Linked DNA regions of Homo sapiens. The protein of the gene in region 3 interacts with the protein of the main gene of each other region in a biochemical or structural test. Each region holds a gene or a part of one and is shown on either strand. Other genes may lie near its edges. The genes, in order: CSNK1D, UBQLN4, GJA1 and MAPK7.

Evidence for each region.
Region 1: of the proteins of GJA1 (region 3) and CSNK1D, one has a biochemical effect on the other in vitro, tested with the Homo sapiens proteins (one study listed by BioGRID).
Region 2: the proteins of GJA1 (region 3) and UBQLN4 form a complex in vitro, tested with the Homo sapiens proteins (one study listed by BioGRID).
Region 4: of the proteins of GJA1 (region 3) and MAPK7, one has a biochemical effect on the other in vitro, tested with the Homo sapiens proteins (one study listed by BioGRID).

What each region holds. Positions count from the first base shown.
Region 1 is NC_000017.11:82,270,692-82,278,379, forward strand, and holds the start of CSNK1D (casein kinase I isoform delta), read right to left. Parts: upstream 3,010-7,688; 5' UTR 2,691-3,009; coding exon 2,615-2,690; intron 1,412-2,614; exon of another isoform or gene 1-1,411. UniProt on the Homo sapiens protein: Essential serine/threonine-protein kinase that regulates diverse cellular growth and survival processes including Wnt signaling, DNA repair and circadian rhythms. It can phosphorylate a large number of proteins.
Region 2 is NC_000001.11:156,036,799-156,043,798, forward strand, and holds part of UBQLN4 (ubiquilin-4), read right to left. Parts: intron 6,116-7,000; coding exon 5,976-6,115; intron 5,580-5,975; coding exon of another isoform or gene 5,562-5,579; exon of another isoform or gene 5,455-5,561; intron 5,439-5,454; coding exon 5,355-5,438; intron 5,190-5,354; coding exon 5,074-5,189; intron 4,874-5,073; coding exon 4,687-4,873; intron 333-4,686; coding exon 180-332; 3' UTR 1-179. UniProt on the Homo sapiens protein: Regulator of protein degradation that mediates the proteasomal targeting of misfolded, mislocalized or accumulated proteins.
Region 3 is NC_000006.12:121,445,646-121,450,227, forward strand, and holds the end of GJA1 (gap junction alpha-1 protein), read left to right. Parts: intron 1-1,186; 5' UTR 1,187-1,202; coding exon 1,203-2,351; 3' UTR 2,352-4,082; downstream 4,083-4,582. UniProt on the Homo sapiens protein: Gap junction protein that acts as a regulator of bladder capacity. A gap junction consists of a cluster of closely packed pairs of transmembrane channels, the connexons, through which materials of low MW diffuse from one cell to a neighboring cell.
Region 4 is NC_000017.11:19,381,412-19,384,044, forward strand, and holds the end of MAPK7 (mitogen-activated protein kinase 7), read left to right. Parts: coding exon 1-275; intron 276-369; coding exon 370-1,055; intron 1,056-1,401; coding exon 1,402-1,535; coding exon of another isoform or gene 1,536-1,539; intron 1,540-1,666; coding exon 1,667-1,820; 3' UTR 1,821-2,133; downstream 2,134-2,633. UniProt on the Homo sapiens protein: Plays a role in various cellular processes such as proliferation, differentiation and cell survival. The upstream activator of MAPK7 is the MAPK kinase MAP2K5.

The DNA.
Region 1 (7,688 bases), on a different chromosome or scaffold from region 3:
TCCTCCGTGGGGTCGTCTGAAAGGACCACAGTGTAGGCTAGGAGCCAATGCTGATGGGAAAAAAAAAAATCAGCTGTGCCTAACCCCACTCAAGTAACTGGACGTGTACCCTGATGGGTGGCTGTCTGGGACGGCTGTCTGGGGGCTCCAACCCCAGGGTGTCAGAGCCACAGCCGCCCGCAATCCCGTATCCAGCATGACTGTATGCCCAGCGCGAGGTGAGGCCTGGAGGGTAGAATGCTGAGTGAGGAGACAGCCTTCCACCCTCCACCTCTGGAATTACTTGGTGACAACCACACCAAAATTTGTCTTAATCTATCTTTGGAAAGCACAAAGTTGTTTGACAAGGTCTCAGATCAGAGAACAGATAGTTTCAAAGTACTTCTTATTTATTTATTTTTTGAGACAGAGTCTCACTCCATCGCCCAGGCTGCAGTGCAGTGGTGTGATCTTGGCTCACTGCAACCTCCGCCTCCCAGGTTCAAGCAATTCTCGTGCCTCAGCCTCCCAAGTAGCTGGAATTACAGGCAGCCACCACCACGCCTGGCCAATTTTTGTATTTTTAGTAGAGATGGGGTTTCGCCACTTTGGCCAGGCTGGTCTCCTGACCTCAAGCGACCCGCCCACCTCAGCTTCCCAAAGTGCTGGGATTACAGGCGTGAGCCACCACACCCGGCCCAAAATACTCCTTTTTGATGCCTGCCTAAAGGTGGCTAATGGACTGGCTTTGCAGTGTAACTCAGATCCTGGGGTTAAAACTTTCGCCAAAATCCATTGTTCTATAAATAAGCCAAACGACTTCCATTGACCAAGCACTCTGACTTCCCAAACACTGCCAAGAACACATCCAGCTGACCACCTGGTATAAATGTTTAATAGCCAAACCCAAATGTCTAAAGCCTGCTTACTCAGCAGTCCACTAAGGCATATGTACAGGTTCAAAAGCAACAATATGGCATGTGACAGGGTCACCTGGCAGGTTAACCAGGCACCGAAAGTATGAGCCACCCATATGTGTGGATTCGTCCTAACGCTGTCAGCCCACCGGGTCCTGAGTCCTCTCTCTGGTGACAAGTGGGAAGGGTGTGAGAACTGGAGACTGTCCACATGTGGCTTCATCTAAAAGGTATGACCAGAGGCATTACTGACATCCCAGGGGATTCCTGACCCTAGCTGACAGGTGCCCCAGTTAAAACACACCCCAAAGCTAGGGCTGCTGGAACAGAAAACAGCTCCCCTCAAAGGTCTGCAGCAGCCCCTCTGCAGGCACACCGCCTCAGGCTACATATCCTCAAATTCAGGGGATCTTGGAATAACTCGTGCATTGCACAATCCCACTAACAAGTGCGGAAAATTAAGTTACTTTAAAATTACAAACTTGGGCCAGGCGCGGTGGCTTCCCAGCACTTCGGGAGGCCGAACTGGGCGGATCACTTGAGGTCCGGAGTTCGAGACCAGCCTTGACCAACATGAAGAAACCCCGTCTCTACTAAAAATACGAAATTAGCCAGGCGTGGTGGCGCACGCCTGTGATCCCAGCTTTTCGGGAGGCTGAGGCAGGAGAATCGCTTGAACCTGGGAGGCAGAGGTTGCGGTGAGCCGAGATCACGCCATTGCACTCCAACCTGGGCAACAAGAGCGAAACTCCGTCTCAGGAAAAAAAAAAAAATTACAAACTTGAAGATTTAAGCCAACCTTTCATCACACTTGTGTTCACGTGCATATTTTTCCATTGTAAATATGACACAACCCAAAACCTTCTAATCCCATTGTTTTTGAAATCTACCTTGAGACTGTTACAGTCTAAAGGACACCTCATGAGTACAACTACCTCATCTGCCTCTCATCTTGCCAGCATCTTAATCCTGTGTGACTTTCTCTACATTCACCTAAACTTAACCCTTGCTCATTTGCACTCAGTCACCGCTCCAAGGCCAAGGGGAACCGTTCAGAGAGAACCCCCAGCGGGAGGGCAAGCCCCACTCCTAGCCGGGCCACTCCCCCGCTCCACACGGCATTTGGGTCTTTCTGACATTTTCCCCCACGAATGCAAGACACCGGGGCAGCCTCTGAGGGGGCAGCCAGACAGCCCCGGACCGGGCTGCGGAAGAAAGAGCGTGGCCTTTGTTTACTGCGGTGACCTTAGGCGTAGAGGAAGCCGACGCCCGCTTCGCGGCCCCAGCCCTACCCCCTCCCCTCCCACGGCCCGCTGCCCCCACCCCCGCCCTGCCCCTCCCCCAGGCCCGCCTCCCCACGCCCCACCCAGCCCTTCCCGAGTCCGCTCCCCACGACCCTGCCCCTACCCAGGTCGGCTCCCCAGAGACCATGCCCCACCCCGGGTCAGCTCCCCTATCCCCTCCTTCCCCAACCCTCCCCTCTCCAGACCCTGCTCCCCCGACCTGGTCCTGCCCCTCCCCCACGTCCGCTCCCCACTGCCCTCCCCACCCCTGGCCGCGCTAGCCTAGTGGCCGTTGGGTTCTGGCCACGATCCGGCGGTGCCGGGACTTGCGCGGAGACCCCGCGGGGGCCACCACTTCCTTCCGCGATCGCGCTTGGTCTTGGCAGCCGCAGGGCCCGGGTCTTCGGGCGGCGGGCGGGGGCGGCGGGGCCTCACCGAGATAGATGTCTCCGAAGGAGCCGCTGCCGATCTTCCGGCCCAGCCGGTACCTGTTCCCGACTCTCAGCTCCATGGCGGCGGCGGCCCGATTCGCTCCTGCCCTCCCGGCCGCTTCCTGGGTCTGAACTCTGGGAGGCGGCGCCGCTGCTGCCGCTACTGCGGGTCCGGCTCCCGGCTCCGCCCCCCTCACGGCCCCGCTTTCACCATCGCTTTCCTGTCGCCCCGCCGCTCCCAGCGCCTCAATACGGGGCGGATGGGACAGTCCGAGCGCCGCCGCCGCTGCTCCGGCCCCTACCGGTCCCGCTTGCCCTCTCCCCGCCGCGGATGGACTCGGATCTTCCGGGCCTAAATCCCCTTTCAGCTGCCTAAAGGAGCCGCCGCCATCGCGCTGTGACGTCACTTCCCCTAGCAACCCGGCGGGGCGGGGCCGCGGCGCTCCAGGGGCGGGGCCGGGCGGGGCGAGCGCTCCAGGCCTCCTCCCGACCCTGCGCCGTGCCCAGCCCCTCTGCCCTCCTGTTACCCCGGGACCTCGGGCCGCCAGCCCCTTCCACGTGCAGGCTCCTGCTGCTCTCGCGGGGGCTTTTCGTGTGTCCCCCGAGATGTCGAGGAAGCCAGGTGAGTTCCTCGCGACAGGCGGTGCCCTTTGCAGGAGGGGACAGGTAGCTGAGGCGTGGACAGAGTGACAGGCCAGGCTCAGGGGACACAGGTGAGACCCCCTCACTGGGCTGCCAGTTCCCGGGCTTGGGGCATCCCAGTACGTCAGCGTCTGCGGCCTTACCTCCTGACACCTAAGGCCAGAGACAGAGCAGGCCCGCGCCCTGGGAGGTCCTGATGTCCAGCCTGAAGATTGAGGACAAAGCCACCACCTTTCACAAAATGAGGCCAGACCACCTGCCTCCCTCCAGTCCCTGCGGCCTGGAGACGGAGTCAACATTCTTATCTGTGTTGGATCTGAATGTTCCTCCTTGCAAAGGAAACAAGGAGTGGACGTTCAGGCTGATGGCCAGCTTCAAAGATCGGGGCCTTTGATTCCCATCACTGGGAAGAAAGCCCTTCAGACAAGCCCCCCCAGGCTGCAGGTGCATGGGGACCTTGAAGAACCCGTCCCCATGGTCCCACGTCCATGTGTCTCGAGACCTGTCGCATCCTCGCTGAAACTCAAGAATGTGAAACAGGTGAAGGTGTGTTTTGACGCATTAGCATACCAGGGCTGTGGTGTGGGCACCGCCGTGTGAGTGAGACAGCAGCCTCAGCCCGTCCAGGTCACTGCAGAAGAGGAAAGCAGCCCCCACAGGCCCCACAGTGGTGCTCGCCTTTCTCCACCCCCCAGTCTTTCCTCTCCACCCCTCAGCTCCAAACAGCTGGAGGTCAGGTCGGGGAGACGGGCGTCCATTCCCGAAATTACATAGCAGGGCCTGGAGACAGGAGATGCCGCCGGCCAGACCACCATCAGTCACTAATGAGGGATGGGCAGTCGGAACTGCCCAGTTTCTGAGTTACAGAAGCCGGGGGTGGGGGGCTGCCAGACTAGTAAAACTGACCTTGTTGGCGGAATCGCTCACGGCTTTTCTGTTGATGAACAGAGTCCAGCTCTCCCACGGGTGGCTGTGATCCTTCTTCCTGGGGAGTCCTGCTGTCCCTGACTAGGGGCACCTGCCCACCTGTCAGCTGCTCCTCCCTCGGCTGGTCCTCCTGGGCTCTGATGGCCCCAACATTTCTAGCTCTTCTCACCCATAGTGCCCCAAGCTTCATGCAGCTGCGGCAGGTACTGTGCCCGTCTGCCTGGCTTTTGTGTGTTTGTGTCTTGACTCTATAACCCGTGCACACGGACTGGGCTGTGGTGTAGTGGGGATGGCAGGAGCCCTGGGAACATGCGGGCTGGGCAAGGTGAGGCAGGCTGATTGCTGTGGCTCCCCCACCACCAGCCCCAGCCACAACAAACTGACAAAGGAAGAGGACAGTGGTACCCTGGAGCCCTGGGGTCAGAGAGAGGAGGACAAAGCAGGTGTGTAGCCCAGGGAATGACAGCACCCCTTCCGAGAAGACAGGGAGGGTGCAGACATGGCCAGGTTCTGAGCTAGAAAACTGTCAGCAGGGGGCTGAAGCTGAGGATAGTCATTGCCAAGGAACAGCCTCCGTCACAGAGGAGACGCACAGATGCGGTGACGAGGGAGGGATGCGGGGCTGGTGACCGCTGGGAACGGATGTGTGAGGCAGAGTCTCCAGGCATGGTCTGTGGGGCGGTTTGATGATACTAGAACATCTCAGAGTAGAAGGACGTCCCGACCTGCAGACTGGAAAGCCCCCAGAGCTCCCGGCAGGACGTATGAGGGCCAGCCCACACCCAGGTCTGTCCTGATACAACTGAACGCCACAGTGTCTTAGCTCCTTTACTGTTGCTATCAAGAAACACCTGAGGCTGGGAAATTTATGAAGAATCATGAGGTAATTTGTATATTTGTCCACACTAAACCTCATGTTGAATTGTAAACCCCAAGGCTGGAGGTGGCTGGGTCATGGGGGTGGATTTCTCAGGAATGTTTAGTACCATCCCCTTGGTGCTGTCCTTGAGATAGTGAGTTCTCCTGAGATCTGGTTATTTAAAAAGTGTGGGGCACCTCTCTCTCTCGCTCACTCGCTCGCTCGCTCCTGCTCTGGCCATGTGACGTGCCCGCTCCCCCATTGCCTTTCACCATGATTGGAAGCTTCCGGAGGCCTCCCCAGAAGCTGAGCAGAGGCCAGCACCATGCCTCCTGTAAAGCCTGCAGAACCAGGAGCCAAGTAAACCTCTTTTCATTATTTATTTATTTATTTATTTATTTATTTTGACACAGGGTCTCGCTCTGTTGCCCAGGCTGGAGTGCAGTGGCGTGATCTCGGCTCACTGCAACCTCTGCCTCCTGGGCTCAGGTGATCCTCCCACCTCACCCTCCTGAGTAGCTGGGACTACAGGCACACGCCACCATACCTGGCTAATTTTTCATATTTTTTGTAGACATGGGGTCTTACTGGCCCAGACTGGTCTCAAACTTCTGAGCTCAAGTGATCCATCCACCTTGGCCTTCCAGAGTGCTGGGATCACACGCATGAGCTACCATGCCGGCCCTCTTTTCTTTTAAAATTGCCCAGTCCTAAGTATTTCTTTATAGCAAGGCAACCACAGCCTAACACAGCTCACGATGCTGAGGTCTCAAAAGTTCAAGATCGGGCGTCTGCCTCTAGTGAGGGCCTTGCTGCCGCTGCCTCCACTCATGGCAGAAGGTGAAGGGCAGCTGGAGTGTGTGCAGACCGTGTGCGAGAGGGAGCTGGAGGAGTAGGGAAGTACAGGCCTTTTTTTTTTTTTTTAAGATGGAGTCTCGCTCTGTTGCCCAGGCTGGAGCGCAGTGGCGCAATGCCGGCTCACTGCAACCTCCGCCTCCCGGGTTCAAGCGATTCTCCTGCCTCAGCCTGCTGAGTAGCTGGGATTAGAGGCATGCGCCACTATGCCCGGCTAATTTTTGTATTTTTGTAGAGACGGGGTTTCACCATGTTGGTCAGGCTGATCTTGAACTTCTGACCTCGTGATCCGCCCGCCTTAGCCTCCCAAAGTGCTGAGATTATAGGCATGAGGCACCGTGCCGGCCGTGCAGGTGTTTTTAAAAGCACCTCTTGCTGGAACTAGTAGGAGTGAAAACTCACTCATTACTAAGAGGACAGCACCAAACTGTTCGTGAGGAATCTGCCCCCATGACCCAGACACCTCCAACACTGGGGCTCAGATTTCAACCTGAGGTTTGAAGGGGACCAACACCCAAACTATAGAAACAGAGAAAGAGGAAAGTTTACAGATACCCATTTAGAAAGAATCTGCTAACAAAGGGAAAGAATCAGGCTGGGCGCGGTGGTTTATGCCTGGAATCCCAACACTTTGAGAGGCCAAGGTGGGTGGATCACCTGAGGTCAGGAGTTTGAGACCAGCCTGGCCAGCATGTGAAACCCTGTCTCTACTAAAAATGCAAACATTAGCCAGGCGTAGTGACGTGCACCTGTAGTCCCAGCTACCCAGGAGGCCAGGCAAGAGAATTGCTGGAGTTCATGAGACAGAGGTTGCAGTGAGCAGAGATCCTGCCACTGCACTCCAGCCCAGGCAACAAGAGCGAGACTGTGTCTCAAAAACAAACAAACAACAACAACAAAAGGAAAGAATCAGACTGGCTTGGGACTCTGCTGTCCCCTGCCCGTGACCTCCCAAAAGCGTGTGTTAGAGACTGACCTGCCTAGTGCGTCAGTGGAGGGGGCACTTTGGAGAGGGGCTTGGATCGTGAGGCCCCGCCCTCGTGAATGGCTCAGTGCCTTGTGAAAGGGCTTGATGGAGGGAGTTTGGTCCCTTTTCCCCTTTTGTCTCTCTGCTGTGTGAGGACACCATGTTCCTCCCCTCTGGAGGATGCTGTAACAAGCTGTCATCTCGGGAGGAGACACCAGGCCCTGACCAGACGCTGAACATGCCAGCACCTTCATCTTGGACTTTCCAGCCCCCAGAACTGTGAGAAATAAATTTCTGTTCTTTATAAGTACCTAGTCCATGGTGTTTTGTTACAGCAGCATGAACAGACTGAGATAGCGGCTTACATGTAACCGGAAGCTGCAGAAAAACATCTTCAGACAGCTGAGACGGCTCCCAGGACTCGTGCCTGGCACAGACACCATCTGCCTGGCAGGGCAAAGAAAGGCGTCTGTGAGTGTGGGAGGATTCCGAGTCTAACACCCTGAGCCCAGCCAGGAAGGGGCCAGGAAGGCCTCCTCGTGAACAACGAATGAAACAGATCCCAGATCTCAGACAGGGCGGGGAAGGGGAGGGGTACCATGTCAAGCAGCACTCTGTGTAAGTCGGCACCTGCGCACACTTGCATGCAGACGTGTGTATTGTGAGTGTATGGACATGTTAGAAATGGATGTGTGCATGTGTCTGCATGTGTTTGTGCATTTATGCACAGACACTACACGGGCATGCACATCATGTACGTATATGTTTGCATATGTGCACGTGTGTGTACGTGCATGTGTTCGTGTGTGCATGCACACAGCATGCGTG
Region 2 (7,000 bases), on a different chromosome or scaffold from region 3:
AACCATAATTCTCAGACAGAGCTAAGGGGTTGGAGCCCATGCCTCTAAAGTCACCCTGCTGTTTGGAAAGGATGAGGGAGAAGACGGAAGGGAGGACAAGCTGCAGAGGGTAAGGATTGACAGAAGAACCGAATGCTGACATCGAGGGAGGGGAGAGGCAGGAGGCATGGGCCGAGGGATTAGGAGAGCTGGGAGCCCAGCAGTCTCTCGATAGCTGCGTTGATGTCCCCTCCTGTGGCAATCAGGGCCTGCAGGTTAGCCTCACGATTGATGAAGCCCATGGAGTTGAGCTGCTCCAGCTGCTGCTGAAATCTCACTTCTGGCGTCTGCACCTGGAGGGGACAGGCCTTGTGAAGTGGGCACAGGACCAATCTTGGGGGCCCTATTTGAATTAAGGGTTTCTAAGACCAGCAGGTCTTCTCTAATATCCTCAGAGTCAATCAGGAGGGCAGGGAAGATGAGCTGCAAATGGGGGCCCAGGAGCCTAGGTCCCAAGTCCTAAATAACTGTGTAATGGCCGGGTACGGTGGCTCACGCCTGTAATCCCAGCACTTTAGGAGGCTGAGGCGGGCGGATCACGAGGTCAGAAGATCGAGACCATCCTGGCTAACACGGCGAAACCCCATCTCTACTAAAAATACAAAAAATTCGCTGGGTGTGGTGGTGGGCGCCCTGTAGTCCCAGCTACTCAGGAGGCTGAGGCAGGAGAATGGCGTGAATCCGGGAGGCGGAGCTTGCAGTGAGGCGAGATCGCGCCACTGCACTCCAGCCTGGGCAACAGAGCGAGACTCTGTCTCAAAAAACAAAAACAAAAAAACAAACAAACAAAACTGTGTAATAATATGGCAGGCGGATATCTTTTTTAGATTTTCAAGATAACTGATAGGCCTAGATCAGCATATATTCCTCATTACTTTCCATAAACACTGGAGATGTTAACAGGCACTCCAAAAGCCAAATGTTCTATGGTCAAATAAGATGCATACTAAGCATGACCTCCAAGGCCCCTCCTAATAGTCATCACACGTACAGCCATATGAAAGGCTAGAGAAGGGTCCCAGTTAAGAAGCTATTTAATTTTGTTTCACTGATCAACAGTTATTTATAAAAGAGAAGTATTTCCTTTTTTTTTGAGACAGGGTCTTGCACCCAGGCTGGAATATAGTGGCAGAATCATAGCTCACTGCAGCCTCTATCTCCTGGGCTCAGGTGATCCTTCTCTCTGAGCCTCCTGAGTAGCTGGGGCTACAGGTGTGTACCACCTTGCCCAGCCAATTAAAAAAAAATTTTTTTTTGGCTGGGCATAGTGGCTCATGCCTATAATCCCAGCACTTTGGGAGGCCAAGATGGGCAGTTTGCCTGAGGTCAGGAGTTCAAGACCAGGCTGGCCAACATGGCGAAACCCCATGTCTACTAAAAACACAAAAAATTACCCAGGTGTGGTGGCGCATGCCTGTAGTCCCAACTACTTGGGAGGCTGAGGCAGAAGAATCACTTGAATCCGGGAGGCGGAGGTGCAGTGAGCTGAAATTGCGCCACTGCACTCCAGCCTGGAAGACAGAGTACATCTTAAAAAAACAAAAGTGCGTGGTGGCTCATGCCTGTAATCCCAGCACTTTGGGAGGCTGAGGCAGGTGGATCACTTGAGGTCAGGAGTTCGAGACCAGACTGGCCAACATGGCGATACCCCGAGACTAAAGATACAAAACTTAGTTGGGCATGGTGACAGGAGCCTGTAGTCTCAGCTACTCAGGAGGCTGAGGCAGGAGAATCGCTTGAACCCGGGAGGCGGAGGTTGCAGTGAGCCGAGACTGTGCCATAACACTCCAGCATGGGGGACAGAGTGAGACTCCATCTCAAAAAAATAAAAATAAAATAAAAAATAAAGAAAAAAATTTTTTTAGCAGAGAAAGGGTCTTGCTATGTTGCCCAGGCTGGTCTCAAGTGATCCTCCTGCCTTGGCCTCTCTAACTGCTGGGATTACAGGCATGAGCCACTGCACTAGGTCTTCTTCTTTTTTTTTTTTTTTTGAGACGGAGTCTCGCTCTGTCACCCAGGCTGGATGCAGTGGCATGATCTGCCTCCCGGGTTGAAGCGATTCTCTTGCCTCAGCCTCCTGAATAGCTGGGATTACAGGTGCATGCCACCAAGCCCGGCTAATTTTTGTATTTTTAGTAGAGACGTGGTTTCACCATGTTGGCCAGGTGGGTTTTGAACTCCTGGCCTCAAGTGATACACCCGCCTTGGCCTCCCAAAATGTTGGGATTACAGGCATGAGCCACCATGCCCAGCTTGCACTAAGACTTTTTTTAAAAGAAAAAAATTTTTACAGACTGGGTCTCCCCGCGTTGCCCAGGCTGGTCTCGAACTCCTGGCCTCAAGCAGTCCCCTGCCTTGGCCTCCCAAAGCACTGGGATTACAGGCATGAGCCACACTCCTGGCCTGGCTTTTTTTTTTTTTTTTTTTTTTGAGATGGAGTTTCACTCTTGTTGCCCAGGCTGGAGTAAAATGGCACGATCTCAGCTCACTACAACCTCTGCCTCCCAGGTTCAAGTGACTCTCCTGCCTCAACCTCTCGAGTAGCTGGGATGATAGGCATGCGCCACGACACCCAGCTAATTTTGTATTTTTAGTAGAGACGGGGTTTCTCCACGTTGGTCAGGCTGGTCTTGAACTCCTGACCTCAGGTGATCTGCCTGCCTCGGCCTCCCAAATTGCTGGGATTACAGAAGTGAGCCACCGCCTGGCTAGCTTGGCTTTTCATTCTTGTCATTCCTCTAATTATCTCCTGTAAATGTTTGCCCAAGGGGTATTTGGAAAGCACAAGCCTTGATTATGAACAAAAGACTCTTATAGTGGCCGGGTGCGGTGGCTGACGCCAGTAATCCCAGCACTTTGGGAGACCGAGGCAGGTGGATCACGAGGTCAGGCGATCGAGACCATCCTGGCTAACATGGTGAAACCCCGTCTCTACTAAAAATACAAAAAATTAGCCGGGCGTGGTGGTGGGCGCCTTTAGTCCCAGCTACTCGGGAGGCTGAGGCAGGAGAATGGCCTAAACCCAGGAGGCGGAGCTTGCAGTGAGCTGAGATCCGGCCACTGCACTCCAGCCTGGGCGACAGAGCGAGACTCCGTCTCAAAAAAAAAAAAAAAAAAAAAAAAGACTCTTATAGCTAGAAAGAGTCCAGCAAGCACCGTCCACCTGGTGTTGAAAGGAACAATGTTCGATCCAGAGAAAAGACAGGACTTGCCTGGGGTCACAGAGAAAGTCAGTCACTAAGGCCCCCTGACTTGCAGTATAAAAGCCCTTTCTGGACGGGTGTGGTGGCTCACGCCTATAATCCCAGCACTTTGGGAGCCCGAGGCAGGCAGATCACCTAAGGTCAGGAGTTCGAGACCAGCCTGGACAACATGGTGAAACCCCATCTCTACTAACAATACAAAAAAATTAGCCGGGTGTGGTGGCGCGTGCCTGTAATCCCAGCTACTCGGGAGGTTGAGGCAGGAGAATGGCTTGAACCTGGGAGGCAGAGGTTGCGCCATTGCACTCCAGCCTGGGCAACAAGAGCAAAACTCTGTCTCAAAAAAAAAAAAAGAAAGCCCTTTCCAGTGCTCCTTGTTGCTTCTTATCACAGTCCACACATTTTTTTTTTTTTTTTTTTTTTGAGATGGAGTCTCGCTCTGTCACCCAGGCTGGAGTGCAGTGGCGCCATCTTGGCTCACTGCAAGCTCCACCTCCCGAGTTCACCCCATTCTCCTGCGTCAGCCTCCTGAGTAGCTGGGACTGCAGGCACCTGCCACCACGCCTGGCTAATTTTTTTTTTTTGTATTTTTTAGTAGAGATGGGGTTTCACCGTGTTAGCCAGGATGGTCTCGATCTTCTGACCTCGTGATCCGCCCGCCTCAGCCTCCCAAAGTGCTGGGATTACAGGCGTGAGCCACCGCGCCCAGCCAGTCCACAGAATTTAACTTGGGTTGCACCTGGACTGGACACCACCTAGTTTAGCTCTCTCGTGCCTTGCACAAAGCTGGGTAAACATACATTTTGGTTGAATGGCTTTTCCAGATGAGTCACAGAGGTCAGAGAAAGGTTAAGAGGCTCACTCGAGGTAGGTCATCCCTGCCCCTCCTGCCAGCCCCTGGCCTTGACTTTCCCAGGGCTTTGGTTACCTCGCAGAATCCCCCTCCCCAGAGTCTCAGAGATGGGGGCTGCTTTAATTATCAAAAGGATCCTTTGATATAAGCAGAAATGGTATAGTGTAAATTCTGGAGGTGGAATGCCTGGGTTTGAGTCTTGGCTTCATTATCTACTAGCTATGTAAGTGAGTAAGCCACTTAACCTTTCCGGGCCTCAGTTTTCCCCATCTTTAACACAGAAATAATAATAATAGCTTTCTCATGAGGCTATTGTGAGGAATGTGGTAAATGAGTCGTAAATGAGCTCCAAAATCTAAAGCATTTAGAACAGTATGTAGTGCACGGGTAAGTACCATTACTCTTCTCATCTCTATTTCACATCTGCACAAACTGAACTCAGGGAGCATCAGTAACCTGCCCAAGGCTAGCAAGTGGCAGAACAGGACCTGACTCCCAAGCTTGCCCTACTGCCTCTATTCTATTGCTTCCCTTGAAACCTCCCAGGATCAAAGTGGTGCTCCCAGCACCTGCCCCCACTGCCTCATGTACCTGTGAGTTTCCACTTCCAGCCAAAAGCTGGATCATCTGCTGCATGAGTTGCTGCTGGGCGCTGGAAGCCCCTGTTGGAGAAGATGTGGCTGGCGTGGCTGGTGAGGAAGTGGGGGCCTCGGGCGTAGACCCTGCGTTGCTGCCTGCTGAGGGTGCTGGGGTCCGGGATATCCCAAAGGAGCCAAGGCTGTAGGCAAGAGAGACCAAGAGGTAGGAGATGGCATCCAAGAAAGGGATGAGAATGTGAGATCCAGAAGGAAAAGCAGTTGGAAGAAACAGGAAAACAGACCCTCAGAGACACAAAGGATGCTGAGAGAGTGGCAGAGAGAAGAGTTGAAGGGGAGAAGTTGCTAGAACCTTGCTGCCCTCCTGCCCCCCTACCCTCACCTGGGTACCAGCCCAGGGGCCTCGGTCTGCAAGGTCTGTAGTCCCTGCTGGATCTGCAGCAATGCCTGCATGGCTCGGGGATTGGTAAGGATGGAGAGTGACTCTGGGTTCTGCATCTGGTGGGAAATAAGCAGAGAAAGGCATCAAGAGGTGGCAGGAAAGAGGAGACAACCTCAACTAGGAGTCCAGAGTCAAGCTCTGCCCCAACTTCATTTCCACCCATTGGGCTTCAGGGACTACCCCTTGCCCTCAACCTCCACCCATCTAGGCTCCTCACTCACCTGCTGCAGGAAGACTGGGAGCTGCAGGCGGAGCTGCTCCTGCAGTTGGGGGTTCCCCGCGAAGAGCGGCACATTCACCATCATCTGCCAGGGTGAAGGTAGCAGGGGGAGACCTGGGCCTTTTCACCCTAAGAATTCCCCCACAGCCTCAGACTCCCTGGGCACCCCCTACCACTGCAGGAAATCTGGCCAGCTTCTCCGGGGATCTCAAAGTATCCTGAAGGCCTAAGTGGGACAGTGAGAGGAAATGGAACTATGCTCTGGGTAATGAAGAGTATGAGGAGTCAGCCTGCTCAGCCCTGGGTCTGATGATGATGAGGACAGCTAACATTTCCAGGTATACAGAACTTACTCTGTCACACGCCATGTTCTAAGCACTTAACGTGTATTAACTCATTTAATCCTCACAACTATAGGAGGTAGGAACTATTGTTATTATCATCTTACAGATAAAGAAACTGGGAGGCTAAATAACTTGCTTAACTCACACAGCTGGGAAGCAGCAGAGCTTGGGATGCAAACCCAGGCAGTCTGGCTCCACAGTGTTTTGACCACAAGAAACTGCCCCCAACCAAGAGGAACTCTCTCCCCAACAATACTCTCCTCATGCTGGTTTCATACCTGAGCAGCAAAGTCGGGGTTCTGGGCAAGCGTCTGCATCATGCTGCGCATGTAGGGTGCTGAGATCACATTCTGCATCAGCTGGGGGTTCTCAGAGATCTGCTGGAGGAGGGCTTGCATTTCTGGGCTATTGAACATCCCTAGGACAAGGCGGAAAAAAAGAAAACAGGAGAGAAAGGGTCCAGATGGAAACCGAAGGCCTCACTTCAATCTACCTTACTTCAGACACCGAATGACTACAAAACTCAGAAAAGCAATGGTCCAGTGGGCACCCTAGGATTGTGGCATGAGTCCAAGTCTCTCCCAAGTCCAAGGTCATCTTGCCCTGCTTTGGCCTGGCCCCTTTTCCATTTACTTGATAAGGACAAGCCAGCTAGGAACTGGGTCTGATTTATGCCTCTCTGGACTGTTCCTGCCATAAGCTCAAATTATGTCCAATTTGGAAAGAAATGATTAAATATCATCTAGATCAAACTTGTCTTAGCAGCAGAGACCCTTTCCTCATGCTAAATCTCACTCAGAAACCAAGTGTGTTAATGGTCTGGCTGGAGCTGGGGCAGGAGGGCTGCAGCCTCTCCCATTGGGTCCTTCCTCATCCTGGAGATGAAGACCTTTCCAGGATGCAGGAGCACAATTTTAAAATCATGGATCAAGTTCCAGTCCTTACTTTACAAATAAGGAAACTAAAACACACAGAGGGAAGGAACTTTCCCAATCAAGATATCCCCCAGAGTGCAGAGAAATTAGAGCATCTGCTGAAGACATCCCCCAGGCCATGTGTACAGTCATAGTCCAGATAAATGGAGCATCCTCTAGGGTTGTGCAGTGCATAACCTGTTCTTCTGTACATGGCAAGCCCTGCACATCCCTTTCCCCCAGCCTCACATCTGCCTCTCCCCAGGTCTGCCTTGATTCCTCTCCAGCCCCCTCTCCCCACAGCAGTCTGAACCTTTTACACTGGATAATACCAGAGGTGCTCATGGAGCTTAGGAAGTGGGGCCTGGTTTACTCATGAGCTATTACTT
Region 3 (4,582 bases):
TTTTTAATAAGGCTGTGAGTAGTATTGAGACAAAATGAACTTTTTACATGAAGTGTGATGTGTATTTAGTCTTTGTTTTTCAAAGTAGGTTACTACATATAATGACACATTGTAGCAAAAGAGTATATTTCCATACAGCCTACTTTTTCTCTGGACAGAAGGCTGACTTCTGAGCTACATAAGTCACTGCTTAAGAAAAAAATAGTCACCATTGCTTGGGAGGCTAAGGCAGGAGGATTTCTTGAGCCCAGGGGCCTGGGCAACATAGTGAAATCCTATCTCTAAAAAAAGAAACAGAAAAGTGTAAATGACAATAATATAGGGTATGCACAAATTACACTTGATATACCATTGAAAAATCTTCCAGAGGCCAGGCGTGGTGGCTCACACCTGTAATCCCAGCACTTTGGGAGGCTGAGGTAGATGGATCACCTGAGGTCAGGAGTTCGAGACCAGCCTGAGCAACATGGAGAAACCTCATCTCTACTAAAAATACAAAATTAGCCAGGCGTGATGGCACATGCCTGTAATCCCAGCTACTTAGGAGGCTGAGGCAGGAGAATCGCTGGAACCTAAGAGGCGGAAGTTGTGGTGAGCTGAGATTGTGCCATTGCACTCCAGCCTGGGCAACAAGAGGGAAACACCATCTTAAAAAAAAAATCTTTCAGAGTGAAATTAGTAATAAAATGATATATAATAGCATTAAGGTTTTGGAAAGAAGGTTATGGATGTGTGTTTATAGGTATTCTTACCTGGATTCTTGATACCTATGCTTTGAATAACACACATCAGGATTTTGCTTAGCAAACACAGATCTACCAGGCAAAAACTGTCCTCATTTATCAGACAAATAAAAGGAGCAGAGGCTTAGCACAGGTGGCTTCTCAAGTCACACAGCAAGGCAGTGGTTGAGCAAGCAATACACCTTCCCAGGTTAAAGACTGCAACTCATCATCTGTTGCTTCTAAGACTTACTTTGTCTCAACAAACAAAACAAAACACTTGTTAGATCTTTTCTTCGTTGGCAAAAATGGGACAGGAAGAGTTTGCACTTGGTTTTTTGTGAAAGAATGTTAGAAATACGTGAAACCGTTGGTAGTATTTTGACTATCACCTGAAAGGTACTAAATGTTAAACTAGTAATTTGCAATCTGTGATCCTTGAATTGTCTCTTTGTTTCTTTCAGGTGGTGCCCAGGCAACATGGGTGACTGGAGCGCCTTAGGCAAACTCCTTGACAAGGTTCAAGCCTACTCAACTGCTGGAGGGAAGGTGTGGCTGTCAGTACTTTTCATTTTCCGAATCCTGCTGCTGGGGACAGCGGTTGAGTCAGCCTGGGGAGATGAGCAGTCTGCCTTTCGTTGTAACACTCAGCAACCTGGTTGTGAAAATGTCTGCTATGACAAGTCTTTCCCAATCTCTCATGTGCGCTTCTGGGTCCTGCAGATCATATTTGTGTCTGTACCCACACTCTTGTACCTGGCTCATGTGTTCTATGTGATGCGAAAGGAAGAGAAACTGAACAAGAAAGAGGAAGAACTCAAGGTTGCCCAAACTGATGGTGTCAATGTGGACATGCACTTGAAGCAGATTGAGATAAAGAAGTTCAAGTACGGTATTGAAGAGCATGGTAAGGTGAAAATGCGAGGGGGGTTGCTGCGAACCTACATCATCAGTATCCTCTTCAAGTCTATCTTTGAGGTGGCCTTCTTGCTGATCCAGTGGTACATCTATGGATTCAGCTTGAGTGCTGTTTACACTTGCAAAAGAGATCCCTGCCCACATCAGGTGGACTGTTTCCTCTCTCGCCCCACGGAGAAAACCATCTTCATCATCTTCATGCTGGTGGTGTCCTTGGTGTCCCTGGCCTTGAATATCATTGAACTCTTCTATGTTTTCTTCAAGGGCGTTAAGGATCGGGTTAAGGGAAAGAGCGACCCTTACCATGCGACCAGTGGTGCGCTGAGCCCTGCCAAAGACTGTGGGTCTCAAAAATATGCTTATTTCAATGGCTGCTCCTCACCAACCGCTCCCCTCTCGCCTATGTCTCCTCCTGGGTACAAGCTGGTTACTGGCGACAGAAACAATTCTTCTTGCCGCAATTACAACAAGCAAGCAAGTGAGCAAAACTGGGCTAATTACAGTGCAGAACAAAATCGAATGGGGCAGGCGGGAAGCACCATCTCTAACTCCCATGCACAGCCTTTTGATTTCCCCGATGATAACCAGAATTCTAAAAAACTAGCTGCTGGACATGAATTACAGCCACTAGCCATTGTGGACCAGCGACCTTCAAGCAGAGCCAGCAGTCGTGCCAGCAGCAGACCTCGGCCTGATGACCTGGAGATCTAGATACAGGCTTGAAAGCATCAAGATTCCACTCAATTGTGGAGAAGAAAAAAGGTGCTGTAGAAAGTGCACCAGGTGTTAATTTTGATCCGGTGGAGGTGGTACTCAACAGCCTTATTCATGAGGCTTAGAAAACACAAAGACATTAGAATACCTAGGTTCACTGGGGGTGTATGGGGTAGATGGGTGGAGAGGGAGGGGATAAGAGAGGTGCATGTTGGTATTTAAAGTAGTGGATTCAAAGAACTTAGATTATAAATAAGAGTTCCATTAGGTGATACATAGATAAGGGCTTTTTCTCCCCGCAAACACCCCTAAGAATGGTTCTGTGTATGTGAATGAGCGGGTGGTAATTGTGGCTAAATATTTTTGTTTTACCAAGAAACTGAAATAATTCTGGCCAGGAATAAATACTTCCTGAACATCTTAGGTCTTTTCAACAAGAAAAAGACAGAGGATTGTCCTTAAGTCCCTGCTAAAACATTCCATTGTTAAAATTTGCACTTTGAAGGTAAGCTTTCTAGGCCTGACCCTCCAGGTGTCAATGGACTTGTGCTACTATATTTTTTTATTCTTGGTATCAGTTTAAAATTCAGACAAGGCCCACAGAATAAGATTTTCCATGCATTTGCAAATACGTATATTCTTTTTCCATCCACTTGCACAATATCATTACCATCACTTTTTCATCATTCCTCAGCTACTACTCACATTCATTTAATGGTTTCTGTAAACATTTTTAAGACAGTTGGGATGTCACTTAACATTTTTTTTTTGAGCTAAAGTCAGGGAATCAAGCCATGCTTAATATTTAACAATCACTTATATGTGTGTCGAAGAGTTTGTTTTGTTTGTCATGTATTGGTACAAGCAGATACAGTATAAACTCACAAACACAGATTTGAAAATAATGCACATATGGTGTTCAAATTTGAACCTTTCTCATGGATTTTTGTGGTGTGGGCCAATATGGTGTTTACATTATATAATTCCTGCTGTGGCAAGTAAAGCACACTTTTTTTTTCTCCTAAAATGTTTTTCCCTGTGTATCCTATTATGGATACTGGTTTTGTTAATTATGATTCTTTATTTTCTCTCCTTTTTTTAGGATATAGCAGTAATGCTATTACTGAAATGAATTTCCTTTTTCTGAAATGTAATCATTGATGCTTGAATGATAGAATTTTAGTACTGTAAACAGGCTTTAGTCATTAATGTGAGAGACTTAGAAAAAATGCTTAGAGTGGACTATTAAATGTGCCTAAATGAATTTTGCAGTAACTGGTATTCTTGGGTTTTCCTACTTAATACACAGTAATTCAGAACTTGTATTCTATTATGAGTTTAGCAGTCTTTTGGAGTGACCAGCAACTTTGATGTTTGCACTAAGATTTTATTTGGAATGCAAGAGAGGTTGAAAGAGGATTCAGTAGTACACATACAACTAATTTATTTGAACTATATGTTGAAGACATCTACCAGTTTCTCCAAATGCCTTTTTTAAAACTCATCACAGAAGATTGGTGAAAATGCTGAGTATGACACTTTTCTTCTTGCATGCATGTCAGCTACATAAACAGTTTTGTACAATGAAAATTACTAATTTGTTTGACATTCCATGTTAAACTACGGTCATGTTCAGCTTCATTGCATGTAATGTAGACCTAGTCCATCAGATCATGTGTTCTGGAGAGTGTTCTTTATTCAATAAAGTTTTAATTTAGTATAAACATAGCTTCTATATTCCGTGTGATTTGTTTCCCCTGCCGAGATGGAGTCTTGCTCTGTCACCCAGGCTGGAGTGCAGTGGCGCGATCTCGTCTCACTGCAACCCTTGCCTCCCGGGTTCAAGCAATTCTCCTGCCTCACCCTCCCGAATAGCTGGGATTACAGGCACCGCCACCGCACCTGGCTAATTTTTGTATTTTTAGTAGAGATGGGGTTTCACCATGTTGGCCAGGCTGGTCTGGAACTCCTGACCTCGTGATCCGCCCACCTCAGCCTCCCAAAGTGTTGGGATTACAGGGGTGAGCCACCGCACCTGGCCTATATTTAAAACTCATTGACGGCATCTATTTGAGATTATTTAAACACATTTCTATTGGTTATCAGAACTTCAGCAAATAACAGTCATGTTTTCAGGGACAATATTTATCATTAGCTCTGTTCAGTGCAACATAAATTGTAAACATTTTTGGATATTTATTGAACCAAAAGGAAGATAAAGTGTTGAA
Region 4 (2,633 bases), on a different chromosome or scaffold from region 3:
CCAGCCTTCTCTACAGCCTGTGGCTAGTGAGCCTGGCTGTCCAGATGTTGAAATGCCCAGTCCCTGGGCTCCCAGTGGGGACTGTGCCATGGAGTCTCCACCACCAGCCCCGCCACCATGCCCCGGCCCTGCACCTGACACCATTGATCTGACCCTGCAGCCACCTCCACCAGTCAGTGAGCCTGCCCCACCAAAGAAAGATGGTGCCATCTCAGACAATACTAAGGCTGCCCTTAAAGCTGCCCTGCTCAAGTCTTTGAGGAGCCGGCTCAGAGGTGCCTTGTGGGCAGGTCGGGTGGGCAGAGGGGAGACTTGGACTTGGACAAGGCTTCAGGCTTTTACCTTCTCCCCTGCCCAACTTCCCCGCAGATGGCCCCAGCGCACCCCTGGAGGCTCCTGAGCCTCGGAAGCCGGTGACAGCCCAGGAGCGCCAGCGGGAGCGGGAGGAGAAGCGGCGGAGGCGGCAAGAACGAGCCAAGGAGCGGGAGAAACGGCGGCAGGAGCGGGAGCGAAAGGAACGGGGGGCTGGGGCCTCTGGGGGCCCCTCCACTGACCCCTTGGCTGGACTAGTGCTCAGTGACAATGACAGAAGCCTGTTGGAACGCTGGACTCGAATGGCCCGGCCCGCAGCCCCAGCCCTCACCTCTGTGCCGGCCCCTGCCCCAGCGCCAACGCCAACCCCAACCCCAGTCCAACCTACCAGTCCTCCTCCTGGCCCTGTAGCCCAGCCCACTGGCCCGCAACCACAATCTGCGGGCTCTACCTCTGGCCCTGTACCCCAGCCTGCCTGCCCACCCCCTGGCCCTGCACCCCACCCCACTGGCCCTCCTGGGCCCATCCCTGTCCCCGCGCCACCCCAGATTGCCACCTCCACCAGCCTCCTGGCTGCCCAGTCACTTGTGCCACCCCCTGGGCTGCCTGGCTCCAGCACCCCAGGAGTTTTGCCTTACTTCCCACCTGGCCTGCCGCCCCCAGACGCCGGGGGAGCCCCTCAGTCTTCCATGTCAGAGTCACCTGATGTCAACCTTGTGACCCAGCAGCTATCTAAGTCACAGGTGAGAGGGAGGCCCAGGCCATGGGGACACCTGGGTCTGGGCCAAAGGAAAATGGGTTCAGGAAGCGGTCAGTGTTCCACAAAAACTGAGCAGCAGATGGGGCTTTATCTCTGAACGTGTCCTCTTGCTCACAGAAGGAGCATAATGGCAATGAAGAGGTTGTTAGGAGACAAGTTAAATATGGCCTGCAAAGTGCCTAGCCCAGAGATGGGGCCAGCCAGCACTCACTGACTGCCGAGACTGGTGTTAGCACTCCCAGATATCCAGGCGGAGTAGTCAGCAGCATTGGGACAGGGTGGCCTACAGACCTCAGTCTGTCTGCATTGTAACCTGTCATTCCCTGCAGGTGGAGGACCCCCTGCCCCCTGTGTTCTCAGGCACACCAAAGGGCAGTGGGGCTGGCTACGGTGTTGGCTTTGACCTGGAGGAATTCTTAAACCAGTCTTTCGACATGGGCGTGGCTGATGGGCCACAGGATGGGTAAGGTGGCTGGACTGAGCTCCTAGACTGGGACTGTGGGGAGAGGTTCCTGGTGCAGGAGACATGCACCTGTGGGATGGGTGAGGGTCCAGCCTAGGCTAATAGCACCCCTCCCTTTCCTTCCCCTGCAGCCAGGCAGATTCAGCCTCTCTCTCAGCCTCCCTGCTTGCTGACTGGCTCGAAGGCCATGGCATGAACCCTGCCGATATTGAGTCCCTGCAGCGTGAGATCCAGATGGACTCCCCAATGCTGCTGGCTGACCTGCCTGACCTCCAGGACCCCTGAGGCCCCCAGCCTGTGCCTTGCTGCCACAGTAGACCTAGTTCCAGGATCCATGGGAGCATTCTCAAAGGCTTTAGCCCTGGACCCAGCAGGTGAGGCTCGGCTTGGATTATTCTGCAGGTTCATCTCAGACCCACCTTTCAGCCTTAAGCAGCCACCTGAGCCACCACCGAGCCATGGCAGGATCGGGAGACCCCAACTCCCCCTGAACAATCCTTTTCAGTATTATATTTTTATTATTATTATGTTATTATTACACTGTCTTTTTGCCATCAAAATGAGGCCTGTGAAATACAAGGTTCCCTTCTGCACCTGACTCCAGGTGTAATTTTTGGAGTTCGGGGTAGGACACCATCAGCAGGGGAGCAAGGAGGAGCCAGGTGCCTACATTTGGGGGATAAACAAATATGTTTGTGTGTATGAAGCCAGTTCATTCAGGTTCTGAAGGTTTATTGAGACCTTCAGTCCCTACCCACTCCCAGCCCTGCAGAGATTGTCCTCTGCTCCCTCATGTGGCTAAACCTCTCAACACCCAGAGGGTATGGGGAAGACCTCATATGCATGCCTACCTTGGCTGTGGCTGTTTCAGGGTGGTGTGCGGTAGCTGTGTTCTTGGCATAGAGCTTCAGGGGCTGGGATGGGCCATCAGGGGAAGCTGAGTATGATAGTGAGGTGGGCTGGGGTTCCACGGTACTCACCACAGGGGAGTAAGTTGGTGGGAGGGATGCTGAAGATGGGACATGGTTTGAGAGCAGCCCAGAGGAGTGCTGGGCTGTGGCCTAGAATACACCATGGGCCCTGTTCACACTGCACTGC